Regions from separate parts of the Homo sapiens genome. Here region 1 is linked to region 2. Evidence: fine-mapped expression QTL. A gene starts in region 2. The other region holds a variant in brackets. All regions are shown on one strand. Distances are between the middles of the regions. Region 1 has its middle 54 kb from the start of RNU6-1. Region 2 holds the start of CALML4 (calmodulin like 4).

Evidence for each region. PIP is the estimated chance that this variant, and not a neighbour inherited with it, causes the effect.
Region 1: its variant is fine-mapped to the expression of CALML4 in whole blood (TOPMed, PIP above 0.99).

The regions. Positions count from the first base shown.
Region 1 is chr15:67,893,090-67,895,589 of GRCh38, reverse strand. No RefSeq gene overlaps it. Among named protein-coding and RNA genes, the nearest start is that of RNU6-1, 54 kb to the right of the region's middle. The variant A/G (reference allele first, on the strand shown) is at 1,395.
Region 2 is chr15:68,204,085-68,207,108 of GRCh38, reverse strand. It overlaps CALML4 (calmodulin like 4), which reads left to right and starts at 1,777. Exons shown (of 5, transcript NM_033429.3): 1 at 1,777-1,864; 2 at 1,958-1,988. The coding sequence starts at 1,862. CLN6 (CLN6 transmembrane ER protein) reads left to right here. Exons shown (of 7, transcript NM_017882.3): 7 at 1-117. RefSeq lists an enhancer at 784-1,078.

The DNA of each region.
Region 1 (2,500 bases), 310 kb after region 2:
GAAGAACATAAAACAGAGGAACAAGTTGCAAGCAAATAATTAATGTTAGAATTAAATAAAAATAATAACTAACAAAAAGTGATGAAAAATCAATGACCATTTACATTATATTAAATGTAAATGGACTAAATGCTCCAATTAAATGACAAAGATTGTCAGGCTATATAAAAAACAACAAAGCCCTACTGTATGTTTACAAGAAACAACTGTAAGATATAAGAATACAGAAAGTTTGAAAGTTAAAACTGACAAAATTGTCTTCAAAGCAAAAAAGCATTACTAAATAAAGAGGAACATTCCATAATGAAAAAAAATTTGATTCTAGAAAGATAAAGTACATCTAACTTTATTTATACTCAATATTTAGCCTCAAAGTACATAAAGCAAAAATAGAAACAAAAAGGAGAAAAGACATATTCACACAGGCTTACTTTAAAACACTTCTCTCCTTAAGTGATAGAACAAGCTGTCAAAAGTTAGAAGGATATAGAAAATTTGCATATGATTAGCAAACTTGACCTTATTGACAACTGTAGAACACTGCACCCAATAAACAAGATGGAATCATGTAATTGAATACAAAGAACATTTATTAAAATTTACTACATGCTACGCAATAAAATAAGTCTTAACAACCTCTAAAACATTGAAATCATAAGGAGTAAATTTGACTACACTTCAATTAAGCTAGAAACTAATAACAAAAAGGAAATTGGAATACTCTCATGTATCTGGAAACTAAGAATGCTTCTTCTTCTTTTTTTTTTTTTTTGAGACAGAGTCTCGCTCTGTGGCCCAGGCTGGAGTGCAGTGGTGCAATCCCGGCTCACTGCAACCTCCGCCTTCCAGGTTCAAACAGTCCTCATTCCTCAGCCTCCTGAGTAGCTAGGATTACAGGCTGCACCACCACATCCAGCTAATTTTTGTATTTTTGGTGGAGACAGGGTTTCGCCATGTTGACCAGATTGGTCTCAAACTCCTGGCTTCAAGTGATTCTTGGCCTCCCAAAGTGCTGGGATTATAGGCATGAGCCACTACGCATGGCCTAAGAATGCTTCTTAATTGAACCAGGATGGTTAAAGAACAAGTTATGGTGGAAATCAGAAAATATTTTGAGATGAATGATAATGAAAGTATGACATATCAGAACTTCCTGTGCTTAGAGAGAAATGTATAGACTTATAAACACATATATCCCAAAACAAGAAAGGCTGAAAATCAATTACCTAAGCATATACCTCAGGAAGTAAGAAAAATGTCAGCCAATAAATTTTTTGTTTTGTCTCGCTCTGTCCCCCAGGCTGGAGCACAGTAGGGCAATCTTGGCTCACTGCAACCTTTGCTTCCTGGGCTCAAGCAATTCTCCCATCTCACCCTCCCAAGTGGCTGCAAGT[A/G]GCTGAGACTACAGGCTATCCTCGGCTTCCAAATATCAATCTTACCAGTGAAATGTTGAAAGTGTTCCCTTTGCGACCATGAATAAAGCTACTTAAGACATTGTACCAGAGGTCATAGCTAGTATAATAAGGCAAAAAAAAAAAAAAAAAAAAAAAAAAAAAATATATATATATATATATATATATATATATATATATATATATATATATATGTGAGAGATATGAGGCCTGGATAGAAAGAAACAAAACTGTCATTATTAGAATTAATAAGTGAATTTAGCAAGGACGCTAGGTATAAAATCAATTTACAAACATCACTTACATTTCTACACAAAAAGATGTAGGATGTTTATGGACTGGATATTCATGGATTGGCTACTGAATAACATAAAGAGGTCAGTTCTCCCCCAATCAATTTACAGGGCCAATGCAACCCCAGTGCCAATCCTAATAGGCTGTTATTGTGGAGATTTTCTTTTTTTCTTTTTTCTTTTTTGAGACAGGGTCTTGCCCTGTCACCCAGGCTGGAGTGCAGTGGCCCAATCACAGCTCATTGCAACCTCGACCTTCAGGCTCATGTAATCCTCCCACCTCAGCCTCCTGAGTAGCTGGGACCACAGGCATGTGCCACCACACCTGGCTAATTGTTATATTTTTTGTAGAGATGGGGTGTCACTATGTTGCCCAGGCTGGTCTCAATCTCCTGGGTTCAAGCAATCTTCCCGCCTCACCCTCCCAACGTGCTGGGATTACAGGCATGAGCCTCCACGCCAAGCCAAGATTTTCAAACTGATTCTAAAATGTATCTGAAAATTCAGAGAGCCTAAAATAATCAAGACATTATTAAAGAAGACGAACAAAATGGGAGGAGTTACAAACAATTAACAAGACTCATGAAGCCATGGTAATTAAAACAGTGTAGTATTGGAACAAGAACAAACAAATAGACCACAGAACAGATTGAAAGCCCAGAATCAGACACATGAACTTGTTGTCATATGATATACCACAAAGGTGGCACTGTACTGCAGTAGGGAAAGGAAAGTCTTTTCAGTACATGGTACTAGGTCAACTAGATATTTATATAGGAAAAATGAAAATTACCT
Region 2 (3,024 bases):
GTCAGGGACAGAAGGGAAGGGACCCACAGGAAGTCACAGTGGTGCCCAGGGATGTGTCAGCCCCCAGCCACGGGGACGCGGGATTCAAGAATGAAGTAAATACAGTCACAGCCCCAAGTGGTGTTAGAGGTGTTTTTTGTCTTTTCTCCCTTTCGTGCTGAGGTGTAGCACACACGGTGCGCCCTACAGCATGGTGAGTTGCTGTATCGTGAACCCTCACGCAGCCATTGCCCCACGCTGGTGTTTTCCATCTGTGCGTCACCCCCGGAGACACCTACACACATAAGGAGGGAGTTGGCCGGGGCACCCCAGCACACACTGGCCTAACTCCAAGGAGGCACCTCATCTCTTCTGGAGCCCCTTCCCACAGGCAAGGGGATTCAGAGGGAGCATGTTGGCCTGGCCGCCTTCAGGCTTCCAGAGTCCCAAGTGACTTTCCTTGATGTCCTTCTCTCCATCCTCTGCACAGAGGCAGCCTTCCCTCCTCTTATCCCTGCCATGGGGTTTGGGAGGGGGAGCCTCAAACTCTGACAGGGAGGAGTCGGAGTCCCCAGCTAAAATTCTCTGGGTCTAGAAACAGGTGTAAAGCGATTCTGGGGATGTGATTTGGGAGAAAAGCACACTTTCCACACAGAGGCGGTCAGGAAAGGAGCGGGGAGGGGAGAGTGGGGCACAGGCAGCGCCTCCCGTCTATGCGCCTGTGTGCAAAGTGGCACAATGCCCCCCTTCCTATTGGCAGTGCAGCCCCTGGCCAGCAACCACTCGCACCTGGGCTGGGGGCCTTTGTGTAGGGCACACCTGTGCAGCCACACCTACTTGTAGAGCCTCATAGACTCAGCTGTGGACAAAAGCCTCACGCCCCAAACAGGGAAATGGGATCTCAAGGGGAAGAAGCTGGGGAGGCCTCACACCCTGCCCCCATTTCCTCCTATGTGGGGGAGGGGAGCAGCACGAACTCCTGAAGACTTGGGAGCGTCAGCAGCTTCTGCGGAAGGGGTGGGGCTGAGGGTGGAGAGAGGAAGGGAAGGAAGAAAAGGGGAGCCTTCCTGGCCAGGGTAACCGGCACTAAGAGGCCTCACTCCAAGCCCCCGAGGAGCCTGTGGTGGGGCTGGAGACCCGGCTCAGGCCCCTCCACCACCCTTAAAGTCCTCAGAAGGTGGGAACTGAACTGGCACAGGATGGGAACCGGCTGTGCGCTGGCCACTTGATTTTGCCAGCTGCCCTGTAATTCAGCTGGTGAGGAAACTGAGGCACAGACTGAGGTAGAATGATTCGCCAGTCACTCAGCAAGTCAGCAGACGGGGAGGACTGAATCCCAGCCTGAGAGCACCGAAGCTTGTATCCCTGCAATACCGAGCCCCAAGCCTGCGAGCCCCGGTGCCCATCTCTGAGTTAGGCCGTCTTGGAAGGGTTCCCTTCCTCCTACAAGATGGTGTGTGAGGAGCCTTCAATACGACCCGGGGTGTAAAGTGTCCAACTCTAGTAGGGGCCTGATGGCATCCCCGCCGAGTCCCAGGAGAGAGAGAGAAGACCCCTTCCTGGAGTCCAGGGCTCCCGGGAAGAAACACTGGCATTTGTCCCTTTGCTTCGGCTTCTGGAGGCAGAGACTCTGAGCCCAGGGAGAGCCTTCTGCAGCCCCATTTCCTCAAAAATCCAACCTGCCCAGGTGGCGGGTCATGAGCTGTGCTCAGGAAGCTGGAATCTGACCCTGGTGGCGTCGGGCCCAGTCTCCATGGCAGCCGAGCATTTATTACCCGGGCCTCCACCCAGCTTGGCAGACTTTAGACTTGAGGCTGGAGGAAAGGGAACTGAACGCGGTTCTGGGAGCAGCAAGCCCACGGGTAGCAGCCGAGGCCCCAGAATGGTGAGTGTGAGGGTCTGTGTCGGCCTGGCCAGGGCTGGGGGCGTGAACCTCAGGTGGAGCCCTCCCCTGACTGTTTTCCTTTCTCTGCTGCAGGCCAAGTTTCTTTCCCAAGACCAAATTAATGGTAGGTTGGGTTTGTTCTTTGATTAGCAACTCAGCAAAATATGGGTCTCATTAGGCAATTTGCTCTGCTCATGTTTTCTTGGTGGGAAGGAAGGTGGCTGTGGGAGAGCTGGGCCCACCCAGGGCCAAGAGCTGCGGGGAGGCTGCTGTTGGCGGGGTGGGGGTTGGGGGTAAGCCTCCAAAATAGACATGTGGCTTTATACTTGTCAGTGTGACTTACAAGCCAGGGCGCTAAGACAGAACTTACTAGGTTTCCCTCCAGAACCTGACCAGTTGGATTTGGGGACTGAGGGGACTGGGGATGGAGAGAGAGACCATTAAAGGTATGGCTGGCAGCAGGGAAAGAGGAGGGGCTTTGTAATTGAGACAGAACAGAGGCCAGGTCTGCACTCTCTGGCAGGATGCGTCTACTCTCTGCGCCTCAGTCTCCCTATCTGTAAAATGGAGGGTCCACTGAGCCCCCTTTGCCCTGGCATCAAGCCTGGTTTGGGCGTGAGCACTTTATTCCCTGGGTCCCCTACTCTGCCAGCCCTCGACCAGGCTTCAGTTTCACACCGTGCAGGGTTCTATTTCCAGAAGGCCAAGAGCAAAGAGTTGCGTTACAAAGAACTTGGGGGCCCAGACCTGAGCCAGGGGAGCCTCATGGCTGCAGCCCCCCTGCACCTGGCAGGAGAGGCCCAGGAGGCACAGCCAGCTGCTGCTTGAGGTTGTGACCCTGAAACCTGTCCCAACAGTGGACGTCAATGGGCCTGAGAGTCCCCCGAGGCATCCCATTCCTCCAGGTCTTTGCTGAAACATCGCCTTCTCAGTGAGTCCTTCGCTGACCACTGGAGATAAAATTACAGGCACCTTGGGCCCTTGTGATCCAGGGTAGGGTCCTGAGAGCCCAGCCAAGTGGGGTTAGGGTTACCTGGGCAGGAGTTCCAGAGTTCTGGGTATTCTGAGCTTGGTCCAGAGGGGCAGGAATTGTGAGCTCCAGGTGGGCACCTCCACGTAGAACCCTGGAACTCTTTATCCCAAGAGGAGGGCCAGGGCAG